Regions from separate parts of the Homo sapiens genome. Here all the other regions are reported to be linked to region 6. The links are microRNA targets in miRTarBase. Many come from high-throughput screens and were not tested one by one. Region 6 holds a microRNA gene; each other region holds the end of a gene's coding sequence.

Evidence for each region. Region 6 holds the annotated microRNA hsa-miR-4716-5p (UCCAUGUUUCCUUCCCCCUUCU, at 1,760-1,781, shown strand). A microRNA usually pairs through its seed, bases 2 to 8, with sites in the 3' UTR of a target mRNA and lowers its output. Matches are read on the target gene's strand: a 7mer-m8 pairs with bases 2 to 8, a 7mer-A1 pairs with bases 2 to 7 and ends in A, and an 8mer does both.
Region 1: the mRNA of PILRB is a reported target of hsa-miR-4716-5p. Seed matches in the 3' UTR shown: 7mer-A1 at 793-799.
Region 2: the mRNA of IRF2BP2 is a reported target of hsa-miR-4716-5p. Seed matches in the 3' UTR shown: 7mer-m8 at 836-842.
Region 3: the mRNA of BICC1 is a reported target of hsa-miR-4716-5p. Seed matches in the 3' UTR shown: 7mer-A1 at 2,594-2,600.
Region 4: miRTarBase lists HARBI1 as a target of hsa-miR-4716-5p. Seed matches in the 3' UTR shown: 7mer-m8 at 794-800 and 7mer-m8 at 931-937.
Region 5: miRTarBase lists OTUD6A as a target of hsa-miR-4716-5p. Seed matches in the 3' UTR shown: 7mer-m8 at 3,421-3,427.
Region 7: the mRNA of ADAM22 is a reported target of hsa-miR-4716-5p. Seed matches in the 3' UTR shown: 8mer at 1,417-1,424 and 7mer-m8 at 4,318-4,324.

Annotation. Positions count from the first base shown.
Region 1 is chr7:100,366,684-100,371,367 of GRCh38, forward strand. It overlaps PILRB (paired immunoglobin like type 2 receptor beta), which reads left to right. Exons shown (of 4, transcript NM_178238.4): 4 at 666-1,148. The coding sequence ends at 694. It overlaps STAG3L5P-PVRIG2P-PILRB (STAG3L5P-PVRIG2P-PILRB readthrough), which reads left to right. Exons shown (of 17, transcript NR_036570.1): 17 at 666-1,148. It also overlaps a transcript of PILRA not described here. Among named protein-coding and RNA genes, the nearest start is that of PILRA, 4.5 kb to the right of the region's middle. RefSeq lists enhancers at 32-111, 3,721-4,472.
Region 2 is chr1:234,603,174-234,607,860 of GRCh38, reverse strand. It overlaps IRF2BP2 (interferon regulatory factor 2 binding protein 2), which reads left to right. Exons shown (of 2, transcript NM_182972.3): 2 at 9-3,592. The coding sequence ends at 724. Among named protein-coding and RNA genes, the nearest start is that of IRF2BP2, 4.7 kb to the left of the region's middle.
Region 3 is chr10:58,827,837-58,832,523 of GRCh38, forward strand. It overlaps BICC1 (BicC family RNA binding protein 1), which reads left to right. Exons shown (of 21, transcript NM_001080512.3): 21 at 925-3,599. The coding sequence ends at 1,055. Among named protein-coding and RNA genes, the nearest start is that of LINC00844, 170 kb to the right of the region's middle.
Region 4 is chr11:46,599,981-46,603,980 of GRCh38, reverse strand. It overlaps HARBI1 (harbinger transposase derived 1), which reads left to right. Exons shown (of 3, transcript NM_173811.4): 3 at 72-1,120. The coding sequence ends at 451. Among named protein-coding and RNA genes, the nearest start is that of AMBRA1, 8.0 kb to the right of the region's middle.
Region 5 is chrX:70,062,576-70,067,262 of GRCh38, reverse strand. OTUD6A (OTU deubiquitinase 6A) reads right to left here. Exons shown (of 1, transcript NM_207320.3): 1 at 3,084-4,687. The coding sequence ends at 3,872. Among named protein-coding and RNA genes, the nearest start is that of OTUD6A, 2.5 kb to the right of the region's middle.
Region 6 is chr15:49,166,215-49,170,901 of GRCh38, reverse strand. It overlaps MIR4716 (microRNA 4716), which reads left to right and starts at 1,749; the gene lies at 1,749-1,832. It overlaps GALK2 (galactokinase 2), which reads right to left and starts at 655. Exons shown (of 10, transcript NM_002044.4): 1 at 527-655. The coding sequence starts at 579. RefSeq lists enhancers at 468-707, 339-1,243.
Region 7 is chr7:88,195,303-88,199,989 of GRCh38, forward strand. It overlaps ADAM22 (ADAM metallopeptidase domain 22), which reads left to right. Exons shown (of 32, transcript NM_001324418.2): 32 at 1,169-4,687. The coding sequence ends at 1,189. Among named protein-coding and RNA genes, the nearest start is that of SRI-AS1, 19 kb to the right of the region's middle.

The sequences.
Region 1 (4,684 bases), not on the chromosome of region 6:
GAAGGAAACCACAGGCGCGGTCTCCCTGAGGACCTGGAGGGAGAGGTGGGGGTGCCTATGTCAAGGGAAGGGGAGGGAAGGAAGAGATGGGTGGGCGAGGGCTCAGCGATAGAGGGAGCCAGGTTGGGGCTGAGCAGAGAGCTCAAGAGCGAAGGAAGCCAACAGAGGGTAGCAAGGTTTTGCGGGGGCGGTTTCAGGAGATGACGTGGTGGACAACAGGGAGAACAGGTCGGGGGGGAGCCTCAGGGTGCCAGCTGAGTCCCAGGCCCTTCCTGATGGGTTTGGGCAGAGCTGATCTGCTGCTCTGGTCCCTCTAAGGAGGGCCTCAGCCTAGGGCGCAGCAGAGAAGGTGGGATGGAGACTGCTATCACCTGGATGCCACCCTGACTCACTGTTGGTCCCCCTACACGTCAGCAGCGGACTAAAGCCACAACCCCAGCCAGCTGAGTGCTGGGCCTCCCCAAGGGAGTGGGGAGTACAGGTGCGGGCAGGGGACGGGTTTGGAAATCAGGGACTGTGCTGCTAAGAACCCCACAAGCCCAGCCTGCCACAAATTCTCCTGAGTTTTTGCCACCTCCCACTTAAATCTGATCTCTGAAGCAACTGCCTCGCCTGCCTCACTAATAATCCTGGCCCTGCATCTAAAAACACTTCCCCTCCTGCAGGTAGCAGGGCGCCAAGCAGTGACTTCTGACCAACAGAGTGTGGGGAGAAGGGATGTGTATTAGCCCCGGAGGACGTGATGTGAGACCCGCTTGTGAGTCCTCCACACTCGTTCCCCATTGGCAAGATACATGGAGAGCACCCTGAGGACCTTTAAAAGGCAAAGCCGCAAGGCAGAAGGAGGCTGGGTCCCTGAATCACCGACTGGAGGAGAGTTACCTACAAGAGCCTTCATCCAGGAGCATCCACACTGCAATGATATAGGAATGAGGTCTGAACTCCACTGAATTAAACCACTGGCATTTGGGGGCTGTTTATTATAGCAGTGCAAAGAGTTCCTTTATCCTCCCCAAGGATGGAAAAATACAATTTATTTTGCTTACCATACACCCCTTTTCTCCTCGTCCACATTTTCCAATCTGTATGGTGGCTGTCTTCTATGGCAGAAGGTTTTGGGGAATAAATAGCGTGAAATGCTGCTGACACTTCCCTGTGCATCTCCCACATGGCTGCCAAGTGCCCCTTCCTGCTCTGCAGTACCTGAGTCCAGTCATGATGCAGGGAGCCTCCCCACTAGAAACAGATGGCACTCACAGATTTAAAGCAGTTGGAAGCAAGTTTAAGAAGGGAAATCTTTTTTTTTTTTTTTTTTTTTTTTTGAGACAGAGCCTCACTCTCATCACCCAGGCTGGAGTGCAGTGGCGCAATCTCTGCTCACTGCAACCTCTGCCTCCTGGGTTCAAGCCATTCTCATGCCTCAGCCTCCCAAGTAGTTGGGATTACAGGCGTGCACCCCCACACTCAGCTAATGTTTGTATTTTTTAGTGGTACTGGAGTTTCACCAAGTTGTCCAGGCTGGTCTCAAACTCCTGGGCTCAAGCAATCCTCCAGCCTCAGTCTCCCAAATAGCTGCAATTACAGGCGTGAGCCACCATGCCTGGCTGAGAGGGAATCGTTAAGAAGGAGTGGGCAGGGGCAAGAACACTGTCAGAGACAGTGTGTTGGCCACGGCTACTACAGCAAATTGGCTGCTTCCTGTGATCGCACGGGTTGAGGGCTCAGTTCCACAAGGCTGCCCCAGCATCAGATGCCAGTCGCAAGCTCACGTGGTGCCTGTGCTTCTGACACAGGGCTATAAAAATTGAGGTTCCCATGATCCCCTCCTTGGGTTCAATTAATTTTCTAGAATGGTACCTAGAACTCAGGGAAGCCCTTTACTTACATGTGTCCCCTTATAAAGGATATTATAGGGCCTGGCGCCATGGCTCATGCCTGTAATCTCTGTGCTTCAGGAGGTTGAGGGGGGAGGTTCACTTGAGCACAGGAGTTTGAGACCAACCTGGGCAACATAGCGAGACCCCGTCTCAAAATAAAGATATAGGATATTACAAAGGATAGTTATGAACAGCCAGATATAAGAGATACACAGAGGGAGGCCTGGGGGAAGGGGTGCAAAGCTTCCGTGTCTTCTCTAGGCACTGCACCCTCTAGGAAGCTCCATGAGTTCAGTTATCCAGAAGCCCTCTGCATCCCTTTTGGGTTTTTATGGGCTTCATTATAAAGGCATGATTGGGCCAGGCACAGTGGCTCATGACTGTAATCCCAGCACATTTTGAGGCTGAGGTGGGAGAATCAATTGAGCCCTCAGGTGGCAACTGAGGCTGCAGTGAGTTGTGATTGCACCACTGTACTCCAGCCTGGGTGACAGAGAGAGAGCCTGTCTCAAAAAAAAAAGACAAAACAAAAAACCTGGCCAATACGGTGAAACCCCATCTCTACTGAAAATGATCGTCACCTGATCCCCACCCCTTGAAGATGCCTCCACCCTCTCCATACGCATTTGGTCAGCACTAACTGCCCTGGGTGACAGGCACACTGCACTGGGTGACAAGGACCCAAAGCTACACCAGCCAGTGCCCCAGCCCTCAAGCACCTCCCTGTGCAGAAGGAAGACAACACAGAAAAGGGAAGCATGGTTGTCACAGAGGCCCAGAGGACTGCTGGCTGATGTCACTGAATGGGGAAGTGGTTGGCCGCACAGGCCCCAAGCTCAGACCTGATGCCACAGTGGACGTTCCTGGGCCATGTGACCTCAGGCTAGGCTCAGAACCACCCTCAGGGCCTCCGTTTCTTTCTGTATAAATTGAGGACCATACAGAGATGCTGCCTACCTCCTGGGATTGTCCAGAGAGTTAAAAGCTCTTTTAAAATGCGCCTGCTGGGCCAGGCACAGTGTCTCACACCTGTAATCCCAGCACTTTGGGAGGCTGAGGCAGGCAGATCACAAGGTCAGGAGGTCGAGACCAGCCTGAACAACATAGCAAAGCTCCATCTCTACTAAAAATACAAAAAGTAGCCGGGCGGGCATGGTGGCACGTGCCTGTAATCCCAGCTACTCAGGAGGCTGAGGCAGGAGAATCACTTGAACTCAGGAAGTGGAAGTTGCAGTGAGCCGAGATTGTACCATTGCACTCCAGCCTGGGTGACAGAGCGAGACTCCGTCTCAAAAAATAAAAATAAATCAAATGCACCTGCTGGCAGGGCGCGGTGGTTCATGCCTGTAATCTCAGCAACTTTGGGAGGCCTAGGCAGGTGGATCACCTGAGGTAAGGAGTTCAAGACCAGCCTGGCCAACATGGTGAAACCCCATCTCTGCTAAAACTACAAAAATTAGGTGAGCATAGTGGTGGGCACCTGTAGTCCCAGTTACTCGGGAGGCTGAGGCAGGAGAATCGCTTGAACCTGGGAGGCAGAGGTTGCAGTGAGCCGAGATGGTGCCACTGCACTGCAGCCTGGGCGACAGAGTGAGACTCCGTCTCAAAATAATAATAATAATAAAACAAAATGCACCTGCCATTTCTTTCCATCAGGTATGGCCATGGAAATGAGGGTCATAAGGGAAGCAGTGTATCCTCACAGATCCCCAGAAACGAGAGACACAGCCATGCAGGGCCACTTGGGAAAGCACCAGGGTCCCTCAGGGAGTAGAGGAAGCCAAGGGAACACAGGGGTGAGACCCTTTGTTATGCTTTCCCTGGAAAAGGCAAGGAAGGGTATGCAGGTTTAGGATTGGCTAGTTAGAATAACGTTAGCAGGCTCTGGGGATTAGAGGCTGTCATTTGTTATTTGGTGTCTGGCCCAGGATGATGAAGGCAGAGAAATACTGCCTTCTGAAGGGTGAGAGGCAGCTAGAAGAGCTGGTTCAGTGTTGGGGCCCTGGATTAGCTGGTTTGCATATGAAAGGCACACTCAGCCAGGAGCCGTGGCTCAAGCCTGTAATCCCAGCACTTTGGGAGGCCGAGGTGGGCAGATCACAAGGTCAGGAGATGGAGACCATCTTGGCCAACGTGGTGAAACCCCGTCTCTATTAAAAATACAAAAATTAGTTGGGCATGGTGGCACGCACTTGTAATCCCAGCAACTTGGGAGGCTGAGGCAGGAGAATCGCTTGAACCCAGGGGTGGAGGTTGCAGTGAGCCGAGACCGTGCCACTGCACTCCAGCCTGGCAGCAGAGTGAGACTGTTTCAGAAAAAAAAAGGGACACTCTCAGAGGGGTCATTTGCTAGCTCTAACAACTGGCTGGCTCTGGCAGGGGCAGTCCCTCTCTCTGCTCTTGGAGGTCCAAGATGCCAGAATATCAGCAATCCAGTGGGGCTTGGTGAGGTGGCTCACACCTGTCATCCCAGCACTGAGGGAGGCCGAGGCAGGAGGATTGCTTAAGCCCAGGAACTTGAGACCAGCCTAGACAACATAGTGAGACCCCATCTCTCAAAAAAAAAAAAAAATTAGCCGTGTGTGGTGGTGTGTGCCTGTGGTCTTCACTACTTGGGAGGCTGAGGTCAGCAAATTGCTTCAGCCCAGGAGTGATGGTGATCGCGTCCCTACACTCCAGTCTGTGGACACTCTAGTACCTTGAGGACAGTACAGCCTGATTACAGAAGCTTTACAGCAAGTCTTGAAGTCAGGTATTATAAATCTTCCACCTTCATTCTTCATTTGTAAAGGCCTTTTGGCTATTCT
Region 2 (4,687 bases), not on the chromosome of region 6:
GTTTCCAGTTGCAAGAACAGCAAGGAAAAGGAAGCCCTCTCCAGAACCAGAAGGTGAAGTCGGGCCCCCTAAGATCAACGGAGAGGCCCAGCCGTGGCTGTCCACATCCACAGAGGGGCTCAAGATCCCCATGACTCCTACATCCTCTTTTGTGTCTCCGCCACCACCCACTGCCTCACCTCATTCCAACCGGACCACACCGCCTGAAGCGGCCCAGAATGGCCAGTCCCCCATGGCAGCCCTGATCTTAGTAGCAGACAATGCAGGGGGCAGTCATGCCTCAAAAGATGCCAACCAGGTTCACTCCACTACCAGGAGGAATAGCAACAGTCCGCCCTCTCCGTCCTCTATGAACCAAAGAAGGCTGGGCCCCAGAGAGGTGGGGGGCCAGGGAGCAGGCAACACAGGAGGACTGGAGCCAGTGCACCCTGCCAGCCTCCCGGACTCCTCTCTGGCAACCAGTGCCCCGCTGTGCTGCACCCTCTGCCACGAGCGGCTGGAGGACACCCATTTTGTGCAGTGCCCGTCCGTCCCTTCGCACAAGTTCTGCTTCCCTTGCTCCAGACAAAGCATCAAACAGCAGGGAGCTAGTGGAGAGGTCTATTGTCCCAGTGGGGAAAAATGCCCTCTTGTGGGCTCCAATGTCCCCTGGGCCTTTATGCAAGGGGAAATTGCAACCATCCTTGCTGGAGATGTGAAAGTGAAAAAAGAGAGAGACTCGTGACTTTTCCGGTTTCAGAAAAACCCAATGATTACCCTTAATTAAAACTGCTTGAATTGTATATATATCTCCATATATATATATATCCAAGACAAGGGAAATGTAGACTTCATAAACATGGCTGTATAATTTTGATTTTTTTTGAATACATTGTGTTTCTATATTTTTTTTGACGACAAAAGGTATGTACTTATAAAGACATTTTTTTCTTTTGTTAACGTTATTAGCATATCTTTGTGCTTTATTATCCTGGTGACAGTTACCGTTCTATGTAGGCTGTGACTTGCGCTGCTTTTTTAGAGCACTTGGCAAATCAGAAATGCTTCTAGCTGTATTTGTATGCACTTATTTTAAAAAGAAAAAAAAAGCCAAATACATTTTCTGACATTGTAAGATTGCCTTACTGTCTGTCATTCCTTATTGCTGGCCCCTTTCTCAGGCCGGAGGCCAAGTGGTGGAGAAGGAAAGGAAATGATCGAACGGGCATGTTGTCAAGTGGGCATGCCACTGGGAAATACCACCAGTTTACCCTGAAACATTGTCCTCAGAGGAGTAGGAAAGTGGATTTTGAATCTCTATTTTGCTCAAAAGTTCAGTTCCTGAGATACTGATGACTGAGAGTGCTGCTGGGAAATTTTCAGGATTGTGTGGTCTTTTGGGGTTTTTTGTTTTTTTTTTTTTAAGACAAAGTTGACCGCTGTTCACTGTCCACGTGATCAGTTGTAAGATTACAATGCTGCATGCTAGTTGGTTACATAAGATACAATTCCAGTGATGGAAGGCGGTTATAATGGATGGTGGTGTGTACAAGATGGCACTGCCATCTTTGAGCAGAGCCCAGCTCTGCAGCGCCACTTCATCTTTTTAAACACCCTAGAGGTCTGTTTGTTGTTGCTGTTGTCCTTTATTTTGAAAGAGTTGCAAGAGAAGTTACAGTCCAGGTGAACTTGGAGATTGTGGGATTGGTTTTGTTTCTGTTTTGTTTTGTTTATCATTTACCTGTAGTGCTATTGCTGTTGATACTATCACCTATACCCTGTTTCTAGTGAGTGCTGAATACAGTATGGTACAATGACAGTAACAGCCGCGTGGTGCTGCCAGGACTGCCCTTGGGCATATCAGTGACAGCCCAAATGTGGGTGGAGGAAACCTGTAATTTCCTTCTTAACATGTGTTTGAAATACCAAGTGAATAATACTGTTCTGGAAAAAAATGATAAACTAGTGGAAATTAAAGAAATTAAGGGTTTTATATAATAGACAGGCCCCACCTCTCAAAATATTTTTAGAAGTCTTTTTGTAAACTAATTTCTTTTGATCACTATTTTGCATCAGTAAAATGATTTTTTTAAAACCAATAAATCATCAATTATTAGAAATAGTTGTCTCACAGTGATACTGGTTTTTCTTTTGTGCTGTTATGATTTAACATTGACAGGAACACTATTTTAAATCCTTACGTTCAGGTGTTTGTAACTTGGCCTTATAATTAGGCTGAATTATGGCTTCAAGGTCTACAATTTATGTGTATGGTTCACAGCCTAGCTTCTATTTACATTTGAAAATACAGATTTTTACCAACTTTGGATTCTTTTTTAGTTATATGTTTGTCTTTCCTTTTTAAATTGTTCAAAACTATTTTTTAATGGTCAAGTTACTAACACTTGAAAATCAGATACTGCACCAAATACAGTGTTTTTCCGTAGTGTTTTTAATGAGTGCACCTATTACTACTGTGCGAGAATTCATGTTTTACCAGTCATTGTTATATTACAAACAGACTTGCATGATTAACCAGTTGTTACACTTACTTTTTCAAGTTGGAGTATATATGACTCAGTGCAGACTGGTCTCTCTTATGTGAATGCACACATGCAGAAATGCAGAGTCAATTTTACATGCCCATAAAGACATTTGTAAAGAATTCAGCTCTTATGGTCTGTTGTATAAATGTGTATCTAGGCACTTTGGAATTTGACCTCACAGATGTTACAACTTGATCAGTCGTTTGACCTAATTTGTGGTAGCTATCTGTATGTTTTGCAATCTTAATACAGACATGCTTTCCAAAAAGATTAATACAGAACCATCCTGCCGTTTTGGATAAGTCTATCCAGCTGTGGAAAGGGCAACCTGTGGTTTCTCTGTACTGGTGTTTAATGGGGGAAGAATATGAACAGCTTTAAAGAGCTGTGTATTGTGGTTACTACTATTAAAAAATAAGATCTGCACGAGTCTGACTGGCCTTTGGGTGGCCTTTGTGGACGGCTCGTAGCTGGAAAGTGTTGATCTGGGTTTTCTGGCATTCTTTTAAGTTAAAAAGTTAACATCGGGACATGGGTTTGATCTTTTGTTGTACCTGATGACAGTGCAGAGATTCTCCACAGCTGGATAAAAATGTCACAAAGCTACTTACTGTACATGGGCAGTATCAGATTTCAAATCCTAATATTTCAGCTGTGCTTTTAATACTCAAAATATTAGGGGATGGGGTGTTGAAGCTTTCCCTTTTTTGCTTTTAACAATTTATAGAATTTAACAGATGTACTGTCTTTCATGTGGCCTCACATTTAAAGTTATGAGAACATACACATGGTTTACAACTTTTACTATATACCTTTCCTTGGCCACCAAGTATTTTAAAAGTGTGCCACCTTTTAACCTTTACTTTTTTTAAGTTGAAGGTGATACTTTTTCTATATATGATGAAACTCATGTCAACTGAAGTGAGTGTAATCTCAGATACCAACATTATTATATTTTAAAATCACGCTATGGAAATATCACCTGAATTCTGTCATTTGTCAGATTTACAGTACCTTTTTTTCTTTAACTTTTAGCATTAAATAAAAATAAAATTGGGAGCACTGAACATTTTCTGAGGCCTTTTTTAATTTTCTAAAGCAAGCTTAGAATGGCTATTGTTTTAATCACTAATGGCAATGTGACTAAAGGATGTGTGGGTTTGGGGTTGGGGTTTGCCTGAACTTCAGGAGATAAAAGACATGGAACAAAAAGGCAACTGATGGTATAAAATAGAAGTGCCAGGGACTGCGGAAAGGGCAACTGGATAGGGGACACAGATAAAAGAGCTGAACAAAGTACGGCTAGAAAGCATTTGTTTATTTTTCAACTAGCAGCAGAACCAGCCATTCTGCAATGGTAGATTGGAAAGAGAAGATAGTGACGACACTGGAAAGACTCTCAAGACCTGGAGCTGCTCTTTGAAAAGCTTTGGAATAAAACAGCTACGTTGGGCCATAGGAAATGCGCTAAAGACAAAAGGGATTTAAAAAAAAAAAAAGCCTTATACTTTGGAAAGCTTAGGAATGAAAAAAGCCAAAGCCATGTATGAGCTTTATTGATATCCTGAAACTTAAATTTATAAATAGAGATAAAAGGTAGAAAGCACTGAGACACATTTTACTGGCTACTCTCATATAATAAGAAATTTCCTAGATGTTGCAGCTTTTACTCTTTTTATTGATTAATGGCTTGGCAGACTTCTCTATGAAAGGAAGTTGTGAAACTCATAAAGAGTTGGAGGCTAGGATATACATAGAGTTACTATATGTTTTAAATTAAACAGCAACAGTGAATGTGTACTTGAATATATTTACACTAGGGTGGTCTGGTAACTAGGAGGGGCCCATCACTATATATATTTTAATAGTTTTTCATTATTAGTCCATTTAAGGTTTTCAAGAAACCATATTCTTAGCAAGTTACAGATGATAAACAATTTTTCATGTAATAACTAGGTTAAAAGAAATAGGATGAACTATGTTTTTGTAACAAAAATGCTAAATTTTATTTTTAGTGAAATTGAAAATAGTGCAGCTTGTAGAAGTAATTCTCAACATTTCAAAACCTCTTCCCAAAGATATACTTTAATGACTGCATTTCGTTTTCAGTTAAGAAAACAAACCAGACTCTTGATGTGGCAGATGTCTTTGTTTATTCCCCA
Region 3 (4,687 bases), not on the chromosome of region 6:
CACCACTACCTATTGAGCCTCTACTATGCCTGAAACAGCAAGAGCAACCCCTTCTCCTCCTCCTTCTCAACCTACTCAACGTGAAGACAACAGGGATGAAGACTTTCTGATGATTCACTTGCACTTAATGAATAAGTAAATATATTTTCTCTTCCTAATGATTATCTTAGTATTTTCTCTGGCTGAGTTTATTGTAAACATGTAGTATAAAATACATATAACATACAGAACATGTGTTAATCAACTTACTGGTAAGGCTGCTGGGCAACAGTAGGCCGTTAGTAAAGTTTTGGGGGAGTCAAAAGTTATACATGGATTTTTGACTACATGGGAGCAGGAGGGGTTTGGTACCTCAACCTCTGCATTATTCAAGGGTCAGCTGTTCTTCAGGGTGCTCCTCCAATATCCCTGTGCTTAGGTATGGGGTCTTCTTTTTCATATCTGACTTTAATAAAACTAAATGATTGCCATGTTTGACATGAATGAGTTCAGTAGCTGTAATAATTTTCTGTGCCATCAGTCATACGTCCTTTCACGAGCTTAGCTTGTTCTCCTTGCCTCTGAAATGACCTTTGGAGTAGGTCAAACTATTTAATTTGGTTAGAGCGTTCTGAGAATGGTATATCCTCCAATACAGTTTACAAACTATAATAGAAACTGTTTGCTGTCAGGAGTTTATGAGTTGCAACAAAAACTATTTGCTGTCCTTTGTTCTCTAGACTATCAATATGCTATCTTTAATACCATACTTTCTAGTATTTCAGAAATGCCTTGACCATCAACTAAAAGTTTTCCTTTTGATACCAGACTTGACTTTCCTCAAAAAACCTACCACGTCACCATTTTCTGAGCTCTAGTGCCATGTCCTGTAGTATACATAGAACTTCTCTTGAGCTCCTAACAATTCTCTCTTTCTCTCTCTAGAACTAAATAAAAACCGAAGAAAGCTTTTTGAATCGCCAAATGCACGCACCTCTTTCCTGGAAGGTGGAGCGAGTGGAAGGCTACCCCGTCAGTATCACTCAGACATTGCTAGTGTCAGTGGCCGCTGGTAGCAGCACCCTCTTGGCACATGCCCGCTGACTAACTGTAAAGTGGACACAGGAGATGTATGAACAGCCTTCACAGCACACCATCCTTAGCACTCTGGGTGTCTGGTATCAGGACCAAAGCATTTTATTCGCACCTGTACTTTATGGCAAAAAGGAAGAAGAGAGAGAAGATGTTCTTATGATGTCATACAGAACACCAAATATGGATTACTTTTTTAAAATGGCAGTTGGACAGAATTTGCAATATAAGGATAGGGCTTTATTTCCTGTTTTTATTTACCTATATAACATATGCACTGATGATTTTTTTTTTTTTTTTTTTTTTTTTTTTTTTACTTAAAATGAAGGATGAATTGACATCTGGGATGCCAGAAGACTTAGAAGTTATTTTGTTTGCTTGTTTTGTTTGGGTATTTGGGGATTTTTAAAAAATAATCAAAGTGGAATTTTCTGGTACTGCTTTAAAATAATTATTGTGGTCTTTCAGCACTTTACACGTTCTAATTTCTTGTCCTATGGAAGTTCTCGCTGTCTCCATCTCTCTCATTTTTGTGTCACCTAATATGTTGGTACAGATAAGAGTTAGTCACATTTTTCTGACTGCATCAAACTTTTATTTGAAATGGTACTGGATCTTAGTTTCTGTGCAGAATATTCTGTGATTTTGGGAAATGTAAGTGAGTCCACTTGCTTCTGGACCAATTCTGTTTCATGTATGTTAGCATCCTAGAAACACCTAGCAATGGACCTAGTTCACAGTAATAGGTGCAAAGAAAGACCAAATGGACTTTGCAGTATTAACCCTTTGCAGTCGTCATACTTAGCTGCTGCCTGTAATGCTAAAATGATTTTAATGGTTGTCTGGAGGCAAAGGGCTGTTTTTTAGTATATTGCCACTAAAGGACATTTATTTATATCAAACTTTTATTTTTAGATATTATAAGCATACAGTACATAATTGATGAAATTGATATTTACTAGAGATTTATGGTAGAGAATGGACGACATTCAATAACTGGAGCCCGAGATTGTCACTTTATTTAAAAAGACAAATAATCATCTGACAAGACAGCACTGTTGCCATTATAAGGAGAAATAGATTACAATCCTTATCATGTACACGTTAGCTATGTTCCGTATGGCCACAGGACTTTCCTGAAACCGTATCTGTCTGCTTGAAGTAGACTTATGTTTGTTGAGAATGAACAGGCTTATTTGAGCCTCCAGGGTGGCAGTTCATAAAGACAGCTAAGTTCTGAAGGAAAAAAAAAATATATCTTTTTAAGTGGCTAGAGTCATTATTACAATCTTATACTGTGAAAGTCCAAGAAATCAGGCAACATTGTTTCCTGGGTCTTTTCAGAGATCTTATAGATTTATGAAGTGTTTTTAATCCATGAAGAAACACTAAAGTGCCTTTCTTTCTTCAAAGCAATATTATTTCCAAGTATATTAATTTGTTAGAAAACTTTCCCATAGGAAATGTTGTCAAGTTACCTGTACTGTAAAGAGTTATTTATGTTCAGTAGTCAAGATTTTCTACATGGACATAAACCACTCTCACGTGCTCTCAGCAGAAGGCATTAGATAAGCATATACAAGAATTGGGTACTTTTATACAAATATGGGATAAGAAATACTTGCCTGACACTTTTCCATGGCTGAGTCTGACCATTACAGTAAGAACAAGAATTGAAGAGGCATTTTGCACACAGAAACATTCTCACTTTAAAAAATGGTATTGGTTACCTTGAAGGCATAGATAATGGGCCTGTCATAAAATTATCAATTATAACTGGCACCGAGGGACTGCCCTTTTTAAGCTAAACTAAGCCTTATCTGCTTAAGGATGTTGAACTGAATCACTCCCTTTACTCATCCTGTGCATATGTGTACAAATGGTCATGTGGATCATGTGATGATCATCCATCTTATTTGATTGTATTAATGCATCATGCTAAACATGTAGTACAGGTTAACAATACCAGATTTATGTCCTGTTCAACAACTCAGTACTCTAAATGTTGTTATGCTTTTAATAAGACCTTCCCAGATAATAATCTTGGAGCTCTTTTCCCAGCTGTCTACCATGCATTTGCAACAGGAGGAAGATGTAATGAATATGCAGTATTAAGTTGATTTATGAACAGTGCTTTGATATGCCAAAGGGAAAACTGTCCCACTTAAATTAGATTAAGTAGGGTGGCTAAAAATAAATAAAAACACTGGAAATTCTTTCTCTCACTTTCTCTTGATGCAATGAAGGGAATATGACACTACAGTATACAGAGTTGTTGTTATATGATGCACAAAATATTTTGATGATTTGAATAAATGTTAACTTTTAATCTGCGCCTTAATAATGACTGGTTATCTGTAAATATAGAACAGATACAGATTGTATTTTTCTGTGGGTTTTTGTCCTTTTAGTGATTTTTTTCCAAAAACGAGAGATGGAATTAACATTGAAAATGGGAAATTTTTCTAACTGAATCAATTGTTACATGAAAAATAAATTTATATAACCCCTTTGTATTGCTCTTGCTATATGAAGCGTGTCTTTTTTTAAAAGAAAATCTTTATGCATAAACTCTATGCCTGTCTTTGTTTTCTAAGAAATTTTTTTTTTTTTTTTTTTTTTGCCATTTTTGGCAAAGTTGAAAGATGTTTCTTCAGTAGAATTGAATATGCATTCTGTGTTCTCTTGTTTTGCATTGACATTCCTCATTTTCAACCAGAAACTAAAGCACTTTATTTTAGGCAGTGAATGCAGGACCAGTCATCAATCATTGTTTCTTTGGCCACCCATAGGTACATACAAAAGAGTACCATTATAGAACAGGTTTTATTCTTGTTATTTCTTTCTTTTATAAAGACTCAAGTGTATGACCGCTTTGACAACCTCATTTATCAGCAAAGAATGACGTGATACTGGGCTTTTTGATCCAGGTTCCCCTTTCAGAGACTGCCATTGTGTTATCTATCACACTGTGTGTTTACCATGCCATGCACTGAGATGCTCACTGGACTCATGCTAAATGGAATGGACGCTCTTACTTATTCTGAGATTTTGCTAAATCTTAAAGAAAACCTAGCCCTCCACATACTATGCCCCCAGGAATATTTCCACTTGAATTATCTATGCCAGTGGTTCTTAAACATTGTTTCTAAAACAAAAATTCTTTTGATAATTGGAATCTTACCTGTGACCCAATATTAAATTATTCATTTATTATTTATTTGGTTCATTATATACATATTAATGACACATAAATAGTGTCAGGCTCTGGTCTAGGAACAGTAGTGAATAAAACAAAACCCCTTGCCCTCCTTGAACTTGAATTCTAAACAGAGAAAGGTGGCGCTAAAGAGGGAGAGGTTGGAGGATGGAATATCCCCACCCTTCATGTGGGCCTCCATATGTTTACCACACTCCAAGGGAACTCGAGAGAGCTCTCTAGAAACCTGTTTTTAACAAAACTGTTAAAAGTGGCTGGGCATAGTGGCTCATGCCTGTAATTCAGCACTCTGGTAGGCTGAGGCAGGCAGAGCACATGAGGTCAGGGGTTCAAGACCAGCCTGGCAAACATGGTGAAATCCCACCTCTACTAAAAATATAAAAATTAGCCTGACGT
Region 4 (4,000 bases), not on the chromosome of region 6:
TTTTCTGAATTTCACTTCCTGTTTCTATTCCACTTATAGTCATTTATGATTTATTTGGGCCTTCCCCACAGGTGACAGTTCCTTCTTTCTTCGAACCTGGCTCATGACCCCACTTCACATTCCTGAAACTCCAGCAGAATATCGCTATAACATGGCCCATTCTGCAACTCACAGTGTGATTGAGAAGACTTTCCGAACCCTCTGCTCCCGATTCCGCTGCCTGGATGGATCCAAGGGGGCACTGCAGTACTCACCAGAGAAATCCAGCCATATCATCTTGGCCTGTTGTGTCCTCCACAACATCTCCCTGGAGCATGGGATGGATGTTTGGTCCTCTCCAATGACAGGACCCATGGAACAGCCCCCGGAAGAGGAGTATGAGCACATGGAGTCCCTGGACTTAGAGGCTGACCGTATTCGTCAGGAGCTAATGCTCACTCATTTTAGCTAATGTAGAAGGTGGAGAGGAGGGATACTTCCCAGGAGTTGTGACAGACTTTCCTCCTCATCACCTTTTACACAGTTCCATCATCTAGCATGACTGAGTATACAGATACTTGTCATAAACTGACATTTAATATGTGTGTTTTGGTAAGGTTGGGGCTATGCCAGAATATCTTGATTCATTTGCATATGCATTAATTAAACTGAAACCAAGACAGCGGCTCCCTACTATCCAGTGAACTCTAGGTTGAGTACCACTAATTTGAAAGCTCAGTGGTTGCAAACATTTATGACTGTGCCTACAAAGTCATAGTAAAGGTCAGGAGTTCAAGACAAGACCAGCCTGGCCAACATGGTGAAACCCCGTCTCTACTAAAAATACAAAAATTAGCGGCCGGGTGCGGTGGCTCACGCCTGTAATCCCAGCACTTTGGGAGGCCGAGGCGGGCGGATCACCTGAGTTCAGGAGTTAAGACCAGCCTGGGCAACATGGCAAGACCCTGTCTCTACTAAAAATACAAAAAAATTAGCTGGGCGTGGTGACAGGTGCCTGTAATCCCAGCTACTCGGTAGGCTGAGGCAGGAGAATCACTTGAACCAGGGAGGCGGAGGTTGTGGTGAGCCGAGATCGTGCCATTGCACTCCAGCCTAGGCAAGAAGAGCGAAACTCCGTCTCAAAAAAAAAAAAAAAAAAAAATTAGCCGGGCGTGGTGGTACATGCCTGAAATCCCAGCTACTCGGGATGCTGAGGCAGGAGAATCGCTTGAACCTGGGAGTCGGAGGTTGCACTGAGCCAAGATCATGCCACTGCACTCCAGCCTGAGTGACAGAGCAAGGCTTTCTCCAAAAAAACAAACAAACAAACAAAAAAAAAACTCATAGTAAAGGGGAAAACAGCATATAGTCAAAACACTTTTTTGGTTTCAATTATCTGCAGATTTCAGATGAAAACAGTATTTACATAGGCCGGGTGTGGTGGCTTACGCCTATAATCCCATAATCCCAGCACGTTGGGAGGCCGAGGTGGGCAGATCACCTGAGGTCGGGAGTTCGACACCAGCCTGACCAAGCCTGAGCAACATGGTGAAACCCCGTCTCTACTAAAAAATACAAAAATTATCCGGGCGTGGTGGCACGCGCCTGTAATCCCAGCTACTCAGGAGGCTGAGGCAGGAGAATCACTTGAACACAGGAAGCAGAGGTTGCAGCGAGCCGAGATTGTGCCATCGCACTCCAGCCTGGGCAACCGAGCGAGACTCTGTCTCAAAAAAAAAAAAGAAAGAAAACAATATTTACTTGTTCTGGATTATTTGGGTGGTATTTTAGTTTTTCTACTTTGCTGCCTATATAGGCATAATCTGAGGCAAATGTGAAGAGAGAATTTCAGTTGGGGAATGATCTTCTGACATTAGTAAATGGCTACTAATCTCAGTTTGCAGCTTTGTGCTTTTAAGAGGATGTTAAAGACAGTCAGAAACCTCCATCTTTAGCCTGTCTGCAATAATTGGACTGTGACTTGGACCTAGATCCTAGGGAGAACATCTGGACTCCAGTTTCCTATTTCCAACCCTGACTCGGAGTTAGAGGCTAAATGGGTTTGAGAACCCAATCAGCTTAAAAAAGGCAATTCGAATATAGATAAAATAGCAAGCTTATGCTTTACAGGCGTTCTAAGGACTGAGAGAGATTGATGAGCAATGCAGATTCACCCAGGTTCAGACACCTCACATTCAACTAGATCACATTTCTTATAATTGTGATGTTAGAAAGTCTGGTCATTCTGTTTTGAAATTCGTTGTACAAAAGGAAGATTCAGGGAATAAAGAAGGCATGTGAAAGTATTACAAAGGAGAGGTAATAGGAATATAATTTCTTGGCTTGAAATGAATTCTGGTGCTAGACCTTGGATATGCAGAGTGATGGACAGAATTTCCTAAGAAATAAATAATCCCCTAGCAAGTCTTGTTCTAAAATTACACTGATATAAAAATAACCTGATTAGAATAATGAAAGTGTGAATTAGGTTCACACATTGGTGCCTTTGCTGGGACAAAAAAGAGACTTTCCTGAGGGTTGTCTTGTTCCAGTTTCTCAGCCACTCACCATGTGATACCTCTGACTTGTCCTCTTGGATCATTTCCTACCTCTTGCCTTTGGCAGTGTTAATCTGGTGATTTTCAAAGTAAAGAAATGAACAGCTGATGACAGAAGAAATTTGGAAATAAATTGAGGGTGACTCATCCTCAAGATTAAAAACAATTATGGATTATTATCTGCTGTTTTATTTCTACTCCAAATGCTATTCACCATCATTATCCTGCTCTATAAAGAGTGGGTCCATTTGGCAGAAGATTGTGCTTAATATGCACAGGGATGTCATTGAGGTGGGAATGGACAACGAAGAGTTGGCTAGAAACATTAACTCTATTCATTGTGCAACAGAGGTGCCCGGTTAACATTTTTTTCTTTGTAAAGTTCAACTTGTTTCCCTCATAAGGCAATGTTTTAATTCTTAAGGTCTTTCCTTTTTAAGTCTTCTAAGATGGGTATTTTCCCCATAAAGTTTTGGTTCTGTTTGGTAGATCGCATCAGGAAAGGGTTACTGCCCAACATGTATCATAAGTGGCAAGGTGAAGTGTGATCATGGAAAATGCCTTGCATTTTAGCCTTGTATAACTATATTTAAGGAAAATTGGAGTTTTTCACAACTTAACTCACTAGATGGTGACATAAAAGACTGAGTGGGATGGACAGTCTTGGAGAGATTTCAAAAGCAATTTCAAGTCTGTTTACTTGCACACCAAAGATAATCTAAGTGCTGAGCTGGCTGAACATTGGCTGACAGTGTTTTTCCCTGGGAGCATTTTATTTTCTAATAATCCCACAGGGAAACTCTTCAGATCTACACCTTTAACCTCCTTTCAACCTGTGGTTTTGCAGGCCAGGATTTTTTTTTTTCTTTTGTCATTGGTTAGTTATTTCCCCAAAATGATGGAGGGGAAGGATCAGGGTCTGTACTTCCAAATTGCCAAGGGTGTCCTCACAGGGGCTTTTTATAAGCGTCTGAGAAAGCTGCTCCCTTTGTGGTCCTTAGTGTGGATTTATAGCTTTTTTCTGGCATGGTTTTGGGAAAGAGTCAAGGATTTTGTCTGTCTTACGTAAGCCTCATTTTCCCATAGATAACTCCATCTGGCCAGCATAGTAGTTTTCCAGATTTACCCTTAGATGTTTCAAGGCAGTAAGGTCTCAGGATATATCAAGGGAAAACAATATTGGGTGATCACCAATTTACCAATTCCAGATTATACAAAAGAGGGACCATAAACATATTCTTGGTTTAAGTTAACTGAATAGGGATGAAGCTGTTTTCCTGATCCTAGGACTGTGAAGGATCTAGACCAAGTTAATCTAACTTAGGGATAAAAAACAAGACACAATTTTAGTGGAGTCATGTAGTGAAGACATAGAAGAAGTGGGTAACGGTGAAAGAGGCTAGACAGATCATAGATATAATAAGATTTTATCTGTATCTGAAACAAACGGAAAATAGCCCAAA
Region 5 (4,687 bases), not on the chromosome of region 6:
CAGGCATCTTCTCTCAGCTCTCCCTCACCTACCCAGTGGCCTCCCCAGCCATGCAATCTTTCCCACCAGGATCCCTTCACCCACATGTGCCCCGTGCTAAGCCAAGTCTGCTTCCCCGGCTAGGAAAGGGTTCCTAGCCATGCCCCTCCTGCAGCCAAGCTCTCCTCACCCAACGTGCCCTCTGCCCCAGTCTGTGCTCCTTTTTCCAGGCAGGCCTCCTTCCACAGCCTTCGCCTGCCTAGGCCCCTTGTCCAGCCTATTGCCCCTACCCCAGCCAGACCCCATTCCTATCCTGTGTGCCCCTCTACAACTAAGCCCGTTTTCTCAACCACGTGCCCTTCCTCAGCCAAGTTCCTGTCAGGGGGAGAGGCCCTCATTCCCAGGCATGATTTCTTTCCTAGCAAGCTCTCTCCACCTGGTAGGCCCCCTCTCCCAGCCGGGCCCACTAACCTGCCTATGATCCCATCTCTAGCCTATGTCCTTCTCGGTATTCAAACCTTTCCCACCACCAGGTTCCCTTTCCTAGTCTGTGCCTCCCTCCCCAGCCCCTTCCGCTGTCAGAGTCGCTCTCCAGTTAGGCAACCTTTCCCTAAGGGGTCTTTTTACCCCACAATCCTCCCTACCCCACACCCATCTGTCTTCCATAGATTGTGCCAGCCTCTCAAGACTGTGGTCCCTTTACAAGACAGGCACATCCCCATGTCTGGGACCCTTCCTCAGTCTCGCCCTCTCCGCCAATCTATGTCCTTCTCCCCGAGTCTATGTCCTCCTCCCCAGCTTATGCTTACTTTCCTGCTAGATCTCCTTCCCTGGTCCAGTGCCTTCTCCAGCCTGGACTCCACTGGACAGCCCATGTCCCCTCCGCCGGCCAGGCGTTCTTCCCCAGCCTTTCCTCTCATTAACAGCTAGGAACACCTTTCTCATCCTTTGGCTCCTAACTCAACTGGGCCTCCTTCCCTTGACCAGCCAGTTCTTCCCTAACCTGCTCCCCCCACCCCCGCTCACCCTATTATGTCCCTCCCAGCCAGGCTTCCTTCCCCACCCCGTGTCCCAGTCCACAGCCAGGTTCCCTTGCCCAGCCTTGTCCCCTTCCTCTGCCAGTGCCTCCCTAGCCTGTTACCTCTTCCCCAAGATCTTCCTCCTTGCCCTGCCAAGGCCACTCCCATGCTTGGCCCCTTTGGTCACCTAAGCCTGCATCATCAGCCGGGCCACCTTTCCCAGCCAGCATTCCCCCACCCTTGCAGCCAGGTCCCCCCTCCCCCCATCCCAGCCAGGCTTCCTTCTTCAATGACCCCTCCACACCATATGGCACTTCTTCAGCCTGTGTGCCCTCCCCAGTGAGGCTCCCTTCCCTATCCAGGCCCAATTTCCCAATTCCCTTCAATTCCCCTGGCCAGGCAGTTTGCCAGAGCCATTTCCCCATTCAATAGCCAAAGACCCGTTGCTACGAGGCATCTTGTCCCTTTGAGTTGCCCCCTGGTCAGCCTATTCCTCCTTGTATAGACAGTGACTCTTTCTTGACCCAGCCCCCTTTCCTGCCCTTCTCTCCACCCAACTCCACCCCTGCCAGGACCCCTTCCCCAGACTGTAGCCCAGTTCCCAAACAGCTTCCCTTCCCAAGCCAGGCCCCCTTCCTCTCCTTCTCCAGCCTGCCCCAGCTGGGCCACCTTCTCCTACCAGGAACCCTTCACCAGTCCATGCCCCAGCCTCCAGCCTGGACCCTTTGCAGGCATCCTCCCTCAGCCAGGACTTCTTTCCTAGCCTGTGCCCCCGCTACCCAGCTGGGCCTCTTTGTCCATGAAGGTCCCCTACCCTAGCCAGGCCTCTTCTTTTAGCTTGTCACCCCCTTCCCTGACCCTATGCAGCCCACTGAAGTAGAGCACCTTTCCCATTTCTAGAGCCCTTCAGCAGTCTTTGCCCCTGTCCCCAGTCAGCAACCACCACCCCGCCACCCGCAACAGGCCTATGCTCCCTAACCCTCCAGGATTCCTTTGCTTAAGTAGATCCTGGGATATAAACTCTATATGAAGTTAGCTACACAAAAACAGAGAAGCAGGTATTTTTTAAATGGTTTTTATTTTTGAACAAACTACATGTTTAAAAACTTTCAAAAACATATATATTTTATCTTAGAGCATTTGGAATGTAGAAAGAATTTCCAAAATTAATCTCACTGAATTACAGAAAGTAAAGATTAAAATTTTCATAAGTTGTTGACTGTAAATCATTTCATTTTATATTCTTTTGGAAAATTCAAGGATATTAACAAGTCTCAAATAACAAAAGTATATTGTTCACTTTTGATGTAACAAAATAGAATAAAACTTTAATATTTTAAAGAATCTTTTTAGATATTTCTGTATCTCTAAGAAATAAGGAAAGTTGTTACATTCATATCTTTCACACTTCATACCAGATGATATAACAAGGTCAATCAAGTACTTGAATAAATTCATACACCTTTATATCTCTAAGAATAAAGGAAACTTACTCGATTCAGATCTTCACCCCTTAGAGTAAGTAAATTACCTATCAATGTGTCTCTTTTTTCTTTATACCAGTTGTAAAGATAATGAAACGTATCAACTATTTGAATAAAGTCCTATCTCTTCCTACCTTTAGTAAAGGAAATTAAGTTCAGATCTTTCACATCTTAGAGTAAACCTTATCTAGCCTATCAGTTTATCTAAATTTACTTTATCTATTTAACAGATTTACCTTACATGTTTTAACAAATGCTGTTATTTAGAATTAGCAAACATGGGAGAAACTAAAATTAATTAGGAACCACACAAGTTTTGATGAAAAGAAAACAAAACAAAGTACTAGCGGATCTCTTGTTCATAACTTGAGACATCTCCTGAGTAGTCTAGCTTAAGTAAATAGCAAACCATGGCAATCTTTCCCCCCAAAACTCAGCAAAAGGCCTTCACAAGGCATTTTGATCACATAAACTCCAATTTTGTCTAAGTAATCCAAGACATTCATAGGAAAACCTGAAGACTCCCCGAGCTAGTCTACTAGATTTATTTTTCCCAGAACACATGAAACTTAACATTTCCTTTTTTTCTTTTTTTTTTTTTGGAGACGGAGTCTCGCTGTCTTCCATGCTGGAGTGCAGTAGTACGATCCCGGCCCACTGCAGCCTCCGCCTCCCGGGTTCAGTTGATTCTCCTGCCTCAGCACCCCAAGTAGCTAGGATTACAGGCCCCCGCCAACCTGCCTGGCTAATTTTTCATTTTTTTGAGACGGAGTCTCACTGTCTTCCACGCTGGAGTGCAAAGGCACGATCTCGGCTCACTGCAACCTCCGCTTCCCGTCAAGCGATTCTCCTGCCTTAGCCTCCCGAGTATCTGGGACTACAGGTGCCTGCCACCACGCCCGGCTAATTTTTGTATTTTTTGTAGAGGTGGGGTTTCACCATGTTGGCCAGGCTGGTCTCGAACTCCTGACCTCGTGATCCGCCCGCCTCGGCCTCCCAAAGTGCTGGGATTACAGGCGTGAGCCACCGCGCCCGGCCAATATTTCCATTTTTGTGGTGAAGTTATACGCAACATGACCAAATCTTAGTTGGTGAGGGAGGTAAAAGACCCTTAAGGGCAAGAAGAGGTTAGAACTTTCAAATTTATGCCCCTCTGGTGGTGCAATGCAGAGATTTCCCTCATATTTCCGGGGAATTTCCCTCGAATTTCGTTTCCCACCCTGTGAAAGCAGCAAGGTTAGGAAAGCGGGGGCGGGGCGGGGGCGGGTAGTTTTGATTAAAAGGAAGGAAAAGAAAAACAGAGAAAAGCAAAAGGGGAAAATAAACTGAGCCTACTGAGGAGATGCGGCGACGGCGACAGTTTCCCGGGGCTGCTCAGCGCCTTGGGGCCTACAGGAGACGCGGGAGCACGCCCCCGGCGGCGCCGGCCTCGAGCGGTGTCACGGAGTTGTAGTGCTCGCCGAGGCTGTAGGCATAGCGCAGGTAGACCAGGATGATCGGCTTCTTGACGTACTCCTCCCCGATGATCAAGGTGGGCGAGTCGGCCTGGATCACCTCGATGGGGGTCTTCAGGACGTGCGACAGGGCCCTCAGCTCCAGCTGGCCTCCCCATGCCGTGGTGCGCACGATGTTGTCGCAGTAGATCATGAAGTCGTCGTAGCCGAAGGAGTCGCTGGTCTCGGGGTTGCTGAAGAAGGGCAGGAACTCGTCGACGTGCTTCTTCATGTAGCTGGCGGTGCGGCAGCGCAGCATCTCCACAGACACGCTGAACACCAGCTGGTCTTGGATGGCGCGGTACATGCAGTGGCCGTCGGCCGGGATCGCTTTCATCTCCAGACCCCTGGCTCCCAGGATGGCGGCGAGCTTCTCCTCCTCCTCGCGCTTGAAGCCGGCCAGGTGCTCCGACATCTCAGCCTGGAAGATGCTCTCCTGGCGCTCCCTCTCCTCGGACTCCATTCTTTCTCTCTTTCTGTGGGCTTTGGAGGAGCGGGGAGGCCGGTTTTCCAGATTCATCTTGGCCAGGTCTTCGACGACAGATTCAATGCTACTGTCGTCTTGGAACTTCTCCAGCTCCTGCCGGTGCTTCTGAGCCATCTCGGCCTCCATGCGGGCCACGTCTTGGAGCAACTGCTTTCTTTTCGTCTTGTCGGTCTTGGGGACCGAGTTTTTTAAGCTCCGGATCTGGGCCTGCAGCTCCTGCCTCTC
Region 6 (4,687 bases):
CCGAGACATCACTAAACTATTAGTTACTGTGTAGCTAGGGACTGCCAGCAAATTAATTCCCTAAGTGACAGTTCAGAGATTCTCGTGTTTTTGTTTTGTTTTGTTTTAAAGAGGATGCAGACACCAAGAAGGTTTTTGTGTTTGTTTTCAATTAATATTTAGAAAGAAGACTTTTAAAAAGCAGTATCAACTGGCATGCGAGACAAAGAGAGGAGTTCAGTGTGGATATGGGCATTTCTGCTGAAGCCCAGTAGAAAGAGTACACTAATTACAACAAGAAAAGGAAAAGAAGAATCTGCATGGATGAAGAAAAAAACATACAACCCTTCGTAGTAGTCAAGGTAGAATGTGTTTGCGGCGTGATCTTTTTTGCAAGCCCAGCCACGTGTCCTTATAGAATCCCAAGGGTTCCACTTGCTCCCCGGGACCAAAAGCAGCGCCCCAAGGGAGGAGCCAAGTGCTGTGGACCCGATCTACACGTAGCCAACCCAGCAGATCCCAAAGCCCGGCGTCTCCTCTCCCCCACCTAGGATGTTCTGCCACCTGGACCCGACGCGTAGCAGGGCTCTCTGTAGCCATATTTCGCTAGATCCTTCTTTCTCCTGTAGTTTCAAGTGTCTAAGCAAAGCTCCCAGAGCAATCACGAGACTTCTGTGACAGGAGCCGTTTTCTTCCGGGAGATAAACAGCTCCCGCCCTGCGGAAATCCTGCAGCTTCGCTGAGGTGGCTGCTTCCAATCGGCCCCTCCTCTGGCTCCTCCTCCCTGGACTCAGCCAGGGTTCCCTCCAAGCAGCAGTCAGGTACAGCCTCCGTCCTGCTCTTAGCTCCCAGGGAGGGACTAGGGCCTCGCAGGAGCCCCTGCGCAGAGCACGTGCGAAGCTGACTAGTGAGGTTTTCTTTTTGCGCCCTGTGGATGTCAGAGAACAGTGTCATAACCTGGCGCCCTACATACACCTAGTTTCTGATCTGTCTCGGGCTGCGTTTTTTTGTTTGTTTGTTTGTTTTTTAGTTATGGTTTTGGTCTTTATTGTTCAGCAGCTACTCCCCAAACAACACTAAAATGTTTAGCTATTGCTTCTTTGCGGATTACTTCCAAATCAAGCAACATAAAATTGATGTATCACTTGATTTAAATAGATTTGCATTTATTTACAGGTTAGAGGCATTGGTGGGCCTTCCTAGAACACAGTAGTGAAAAGACGGAAACACATGCCTTTTAATGTGCAAGACCCCTTAGCATCCAGTTAAACCTCTTCATTTTTCACTTATCTAGAGAAATCCTAGATGCCCTATCAAAAGTACACTATCCCTAGTACATCACTAACTTTTCCTTCCTTCATAGTTCTCCTATTTGCTTATGTATTTATTGTGTCTCTCACCACCTCCATCATCACTACCACTAGAAAGCAACTGGGGGCAGGCAGATTGGTTTTTAATGAATAGGTAAGATAAACTGAATGAACGACGAAAGGTGAAATGATGTGCCTGAGGTCACAGTGATCATTGGGAACAAAACTGGAATTAAAATTCAGATCTATTAACTCTCAATCTAGTGCACTTTGCACCTCAGAAATATTGAGATTAAACCCAAGCAAAGACAGCTAGCAATAAACCCATTCCAAAGTTTCCTGATTAAGGAAGTTTGAGCCAACATGCCCAACACACTAGGGGTAGTAGCATAACTCAGAGAGATTCGATAAGTTGTATACATCAGTAAGTTACTGCTCCAGAATTTCTATATGTATATGCATACTTTGTCTCCATGTTTCCTTCCCCCTTCTGTATACATGTATACAGGAGGAAGGGGGAAGGAAACATGGAGACAAAGTGTGAATGGACAATAAAGCATAGCCAAAGAGTGGCAGCCCCTTGGCACCCCGTTGGGTTATTACTGTAAATGATACATCAAAGAAACAAAGTTACTCTGGTCTCAGGGCAGCTTTCTCACTATTATTTCAGTCCCTCTTTATCATTTTCAAATGAATGAATTATATCTTCTTGTTTCTGGGCCCCAATAAATCCCAGTTTGATGTTCATTTTGGTTTAATTTTGAGTAACAGGAGTCATCACTGTCACTTGTAAATAGTTTTAATAGGGAGATAACCTAAATTTTAAAAAAAAATGTAAAATGTTTAGGGACATCAGTAAATACAGAAAAGAACAGAATCTTTTTTTTTTTTTTTAGATGGAGTTTCGCTCTTTGTTGCCCAGGCTGGAGTGCAATGGCATGATCTCTGTTCACTACAACCTCCACCTCCCAGGTTCAAACGATTCTCCCGTCTCAGCCTCCCAAGTAGCTGGGAATACAGGCAGCCGCCACCACACCAGCTAATTTTTGTATTTTTAGTAAAGACGGGGTTTCACCATGCTGGGCAGGCTGGTCTCGAGCTCCTGACCTCAGGTGATCAGCCCACCTCGGCCTTCCAAAATTCTGGGATTAAAGGTGTGAGCCACCGTGCCCAGCCCAGAATCATTTTTTATTCAGATGTTTCTAATATATTCTTTTGCATTAGTTGAAAAATAACAAATTTTAAAGTTTTGAATTTTTTTAACAGTCCAAAATAAACTCATTTTATACAGGGTTAAAAAAAAATGACTGTAGAAACTGTTTCGAAAAAGAATACTTCCTACTGAATATGTACTTGATGACCGAACATTAACTTTGCTAAATGAAACCAGATGGCAAATCATTAGTTTGGACCTTGGATACATTGCTATTGCAGTCTCAACAAAACCGATGCAGACTAGAAAGCACCTTACAGAGCAATTAGTAAAGCATCCTTTTTTGAAATGATTGGCACAAAGTAAAACAGGATTAACAGAGCTAGAACTAAAACCTAGGTCTCTAGACTCCTAGCCTAGAGGCCATACTACTTCTGAATATGTGACTTTTGTTGAGACCCCAGTAAACTGTGCTTAAAAATAAATTATTGAAATGATTAGAATCCTTGTCCCAAAATAAAATGTGTACATTATAATTTTCATAAAGGATTACTCTTAAAATAACCTGTCCAAACTACTAGAGAACCCCAAATGGACACCAAAAACAAAACATTACTTTCTTATACTACCTTCCTTATACTAGGCATCTTGCTAAGTAAGCACTTTGCGTATATTATTGTCTCTTTAAACCTTTCCAACAATCCTTATGGGATAGAAAAATATTATTTCCTTTTCAATTTCAAGAAGATATTCCTTTAGTTCTTATTAGACATATCTAATAGTGAAAACATTTAAACATTTGGCTGGGCACAGTGGCTCATGCCTATAATCCCAGCACTTTGGGAGGCCAAGGTGGGCAGATCACCTGAGGTCAGGAGTTCGAGAACGGCCTGGCCAACATGGTGAAACCCCATCTCTACTAAAACTACAAAAATATAGCCAGGTGTGGTGGCGGGCGCCTGTAATCCCAGCAGCTTGGGAGGCTGAGGCGGGAGAATCGCTTGAACCCAGGAGATGGAGATTGAGTAAGCCAAAATCACGCCACTGCACTCCAGCCTGGGCAACCAAGAGCGAAACTCCATCTCAAAAAAAAAGAAAAGAAAATATTTAAACATTTATATTTTACAGTATTTTTATTTTCACAAATCCTGAACCTCTGGTTCTTTGCTTTTTGCAAGTAGGCACTCTTACAATAGGTTTAGAATCTGAATTATAAACTAATAAATGGTATATTATGATGGAGTCTTAAACAGAAACCTAATTAATAAACTTGAAATTGTTTCTCCTCAAAGGATATTAGTCTCCATTCAGATAAAATATTATAGCAAACTAAACAAAAACAAAACAAACACTAAAATGAAAGAATACAAAAACTTGATCCAAAATATGAGTTAAAGCATGGGTGTTAGAGACTTACAGACCTGGCTAGTGCCTATTGATGTTTCTCAGCTTAGAAATCACTTCCTTCAGGAAGTTTTCCATGTTCTCTACCCAAAACTAAATGTCTAAGACCACAGAGGGATTGACCATTTATCTGAAATAATGTTATTTCTGTGGTTTAATCTGTTTGTGCAACCTCTGGAAAATATTTCCTATTTTGACTTACAATAAAAACTATTGTTCACAATTGGGAGAATCTACTTCAGTGACCTATTTTGGATATTTTCTCATTATAGTAAATAATATGTAATACTTGTTTATGTCTTCTTTATAATGATGTTACATTCCTTCTTTTTTGTTGTTGTTGTTGAGACCAAGTCTCGCTCTTGTTGCCCAGGCTGGAGTGCAATGGCGCGATCTCGGCTCACTGCAACCTCCGCCTTCCGGGTTCAAGTGATTCTCCTGCCTCAGCCTCCCGAGTAGCTGGGATTACAGGTGCCTGCCACTTAATTTTTGTATTTTTAGTAGAGATGGGGTTTCAACATGTTGGCCAGGCTGGTCTCAAACTCCTGAACTGAGGCCATCCACCTGCCTCGGCCTCCCAAAGTGCTGAGATTACAGGCGTGAGCTACTGCACCCGGCCCCTTATTCTTCTGTTCATAAAATAGATACTGCTCTCTAGTGTATATAATCATTAAATGGCAAAAGATAAACTCATGAATCAGAGAAATCTATATTTATGTAGTTATGGAGGAAATAAAAATTGTGCAAAAATGCTTTAACCGAACATAGATTGTTTTGCAGAGTGAAAAACAAAGCAAAACAAAACGAAGACTCTAAGCACCCTCTGCTTGCCCAGTCATAC
Region 7 (4,687 bases), not on the chromosome of region 6:
TTCATATCTGATCATGTCACACTTGTTATTAGTCCATTAAGGTGATTGCTGAACATTGTAGAAATTTGACCGGAACAGGGCCAATATAAAGAGCTCATGGCAAAAGCAAGGAGAGGGTAAGAGGGACAGAATGAATGAAGGGACATCCTGCCTTGAATGTATCCTTCCACTGTGATACCTCAGCTTGTGAGAGAGAACCTTTTATTTATTTTATTTTATTTTATTTTATTTGAGATGGAGTCTCGCTCAGTCGCCCAGGCTATAGTGCAATGTCGCGATCTCGGCTCACTGCAAGCTCCGCCTCCCGGGTTCACGCCATTCTCCTGCCTCAGCCTCCCGAGTAGCTGGGACTACAGGTGCCCGCCACCACGCCCGGCTAATTTTTTTTGTATTTTTAGTAAAGACGGGGTTTCACCGTGTTATGCAGGATGGTCTCGATCTCCTGACCTCGTGATCTGCCCATCTCGGCCTCCCAAAGTGCTGGGATTACAGGCGTGAGCCACCACGCCCGGCTGAGAGAACTATTTTTTAAGGAGGTAGTGATAGAAGTGGAGTGTATGGCAGTGATTTTCAAGTGGGTGATGGTGGAATTGATGGAATCACACTTCCCTGATGTCAGTGGTTTTCTGTCGTGGCTGCACAAGGGAATCATCTGCAAAGCTTTTAAAATATTCTTACGCCTGAGTCCCACCCAGAGAGATTTTGATTTAGTTGGTCTGGTGTGGTGCCTGGGAAGTGGAATTGTAGAAACCTCCCCAGATTAATGTAATGTGCAGCTGAGGTTGAGAACCACTGCTCTAGCTGGCTGTCTCAGAATCCTGGGGAAAGGAAGGGCATGTGTAGCTTAAAAAATAATATTTTAAATTCTTTTATTTCATTTGAGACACAATATTGACTCTATTCAAAATGTTTAGTAACATTAAATGAGGATGTGATGGTTTTTGTATCAAAAGATGGCTGCTGTTAAAAAGGTTGAGACACAGGTTTTGAGGAAACAGAGAGCTAAAAGTTGGAGTGTTTATTCTATCCACTTTTTAGACTTTGCAAGAGTGTGCATCCACAATCACATATATATGGATGGAATCACTGAATCTTTTTCATCTCCTATTCAGAATACATCTGCTTCCTGCTTTCACAATGTGCAATTTTGCTCTTTTCTGTTGTGCAGCTATGGGAGACATCCATTTAAGATCAACTGTTTACATGTGATACATCGAAAACTGTTTACTTCAACTTTTATAGAAACCCAGGCTCATGGAATCACTGCAAATCTATCTGCTCTTCAGACAATACGAAGACCCTCTGAGATGCTACAGAGGAGAGGAAGCGGAGTTTCACATCTGGTTACCATTTTCTTTTTGTCATTGGCTTAGGATTTAACTAACCATGAAAAGAACTACTGAAATATTACACTATAACATGGAACAATAAAGGTACTGGTATGTTAATGGATAATCCGCATGACAGATAATATGTAGAAATATTCATAAAGTTAACTCACATGACCCAAATGTAGCAAGTTTCCTAAGGTACAATAGTGGATTCAGAACTTGACGTTCTGAGGCACATCCTCACTGTAAACAGTAATGCTATATGCATGAAGCTTCTGTTTATTGTTTTCCATATTTAAGGAAACAACATCCCATAATAGAAATGAGCATGCAGGGCTAAGGCATATAGGATTTTTCTGCAGGACTTTAAAGCTTTGAAAGGCCAATATCCCATAGGCTAACTTTAAACATGTATTTTTATTTTTGTTTTGTTTTTTACTTTTCATATTTATATTAGCATACAAGGACAATTGTATATATGTAACATTTTTAAAATTTTAAAAAAATGCAGCTGTTACACACAAGTGTATTTTGCCAAATGCCTAAAAATTCCGTCACAATCACATCATCGTCATCCATCCAGTGATCTTCAAAGACTATAAGCAGGTAATGTAAATATAGTGGTCAATGCTGTAAATGTGTCTCTCCATAATTCGTATTTGTCCAAAACATGTGATATCCCTTTAACCTGTGCACAGTCTGGAGGCAGTTTTATTGAGTGAGTAGTTGAGTGAGAGAACAAAATGCCCAGCAAAACTTCTGGCCTCCACAGTTTGCTGATGCAGGAGCCCACTCTGCTGCCGATGGGCTGCTCCCTGGAAATCATCTATCCCATCCGTCCATCCCATCTCATCCCAGTGAGCCAGCCCCTCAGCAGTGTGTGCTGCTGAGATTAAGCAAGTGCACCAAAGACACATGAGACAACGTACTGCCAGTGAGCTGGTAGCTTCTGGTTTGCCAATACTCTAACCCTTTGTGGCCTGAAGTTTTGTTCCTTGGCAAAACTTTGTAGTCACCCTTATCTGTGAAATGAATGACTTGTTTTAACAAAAACAACTTTGACACTGTTGATTAAGAATATTTGTCATCACTGGGATGTGAATCCCAACAAGTCATTCTGCACTGACTCTGAAGCAAGATGACGGAAGATTCTACTGTTTGAGTTGAGCAGCTTCAACCATTCATAAAGGGTTAAGTTAGATCTAAACCACAGAGATGCAGCATCTGCGAAGTTACACTAACAGCTGGTGGGGGAAAGAATCTGATGCTTTGAAACATATATTTTTAATCCATAGGAAAATAAGATTCTATTTTAAAAGACCCTTCTTTAAAACCAAAGTTTGATAGCTGTTATAATGGCAGATCTGTCATTCCAAAAGAAAGCTAGCTACCCTAGTGAGGCTGGAGATTGATGGGCTCAATCACATGGTCTGCTCTGAAGTATACTTCTGATTTCCTCATTTGCTGTGTGTTCTTAAGAGGAATGGAATCTGCAGACAGGTTTTCAGATATACTCTCTTAAATTTGATCCTCTCCCATAGTATCCATGGACAAAATCCATATCATCTTCATATGTAATCAATTTGATTACATATCATGCCCAAACTGAAGGGCCGAGTTAGAAGGCAGCATTTTATACTGTGTGTTTATGTCTTCTGTAATGGACCTCTCTTTTGAAAGTCTTTGAAATGTTTGGAAAGCAATTTAATGATCCAAAATTACATAATGTAAAACAGCATTTTTCATGACAGGAAGGGATGTGATTGTTGATATGACCATAAAGCGATCCATCAGGCCAAGGTTTGGGTGAGTGTTGGGCAGTGTTGCCACATAGCTCAAGCCAAGAACAGAAGGGCAGACAGATTGAAAGATGTAGCAAATAAAGTGACTTTTTACCAAGATCACTGTAACGTGCACTGAATGTTTCCTGGTACTGAGTGTACAAAAGGCTAATGCTATAAGGTTTATTTTGACTATAAAAGAGTTTATAGATTTGAATATAAGGTGCCTCATGTAAATATGCTTCCTAGTTACAGGTACACAAACTCTAATTTGAAAGAATCCACAAATGGCTAGCTGAGAAGTTAACAGATCTCTATCATTCGTCTGTGTGTCTTTCTTCCCTCACCTATTTTTACATGAAATTATTATTTCAAATGAAAATCATGATCATGTGCCTTTTGGGAGACATGGTTTCTCTAGAGGTATATAGTTTGTAATTACCCGCCTTGGTAATAACCTTCCTGTGGAACTGACTAAAAATTTTTGTTTTATTTGTAGAGATTATGATTTGAGGTATACAGTAACTTTAATGTTCTATTCTTGGAATCTACTCTATCTCCCATGTTTAAACATTCTTAGAGCCATTTGTGGGATTCATTGACAAATTTATAGTCTCAAGGGAGAGTTTCAAGAAGTATCTATATGTATACTCATGGTTGGGGTTCTAGAGGCATTACATCTAAATATTTATGACTTTTCATCCACCGAGGTAGGTAGCATTAAATATACAAGCACAGCATTATTTCTCTTTAAATATCTATTTTGGAGAGAAACTTTGAGGCCGTATCACAGTTTATATCATGCAACTAATATTTATATTTCCCAATCCACTACAAAATCATTGCTAAGCAGAAGAGAGCAGTTATTTGGCCTTTATGTTCCATTGTATGCCTTTTTCCCCTCTTCCAGTTTTATGCATTGATAAGACTACAGATTGGCACCCTGCTGCCTGAGAAGTTCCATTTATCCATAGTCATTGCAGTGCAGTAAACCCTGATTTAAAGGAACATTTAAGTCTCTCCAGTAAGTGTGAACAGGAAGGCATGGGATAGAAGAGAGTCCTTATGGAGTGGACTGGCCACATGAACTGTCCTCCAGCCACTCTTTATTTAGATGGGAAGTGGCATGGTCCTCTGAACGCTGCAGGCTGGAAATGATCCCCAGGGCACATGCAATCTGTGGAAAGGAATACATCGGACAGTGCAACATGGTGAGGGCTTTCAATTTGCTGTGGTTGCTGTATTTTTAACAAGACACCCGGAGCTTCGATTAGGAATAACCTATCATTAGAGTTGTTCCTTTAAAAAATGTTGATGAATAAAGCAAATGTGGGTTTAAAATGCCAACTTATTTTTCACTTTGATATTGGTGCTTTATTAAGTGATACCATAGTTTCTCTCTCTTTTCCCTGTTACTTTAAAAAGAATTTTAAAATTGTGTTTGTATATAAGGTCAGTCTGGCATAGAATTTCTGAAAGTAACATTAATAGGATTTCTAAAGAAGTTGTCAGAAAGACAAAATTGGATATTCTCTGCACTTTCAGAGAAGGACTATTTATGTTTGAATTTCATAA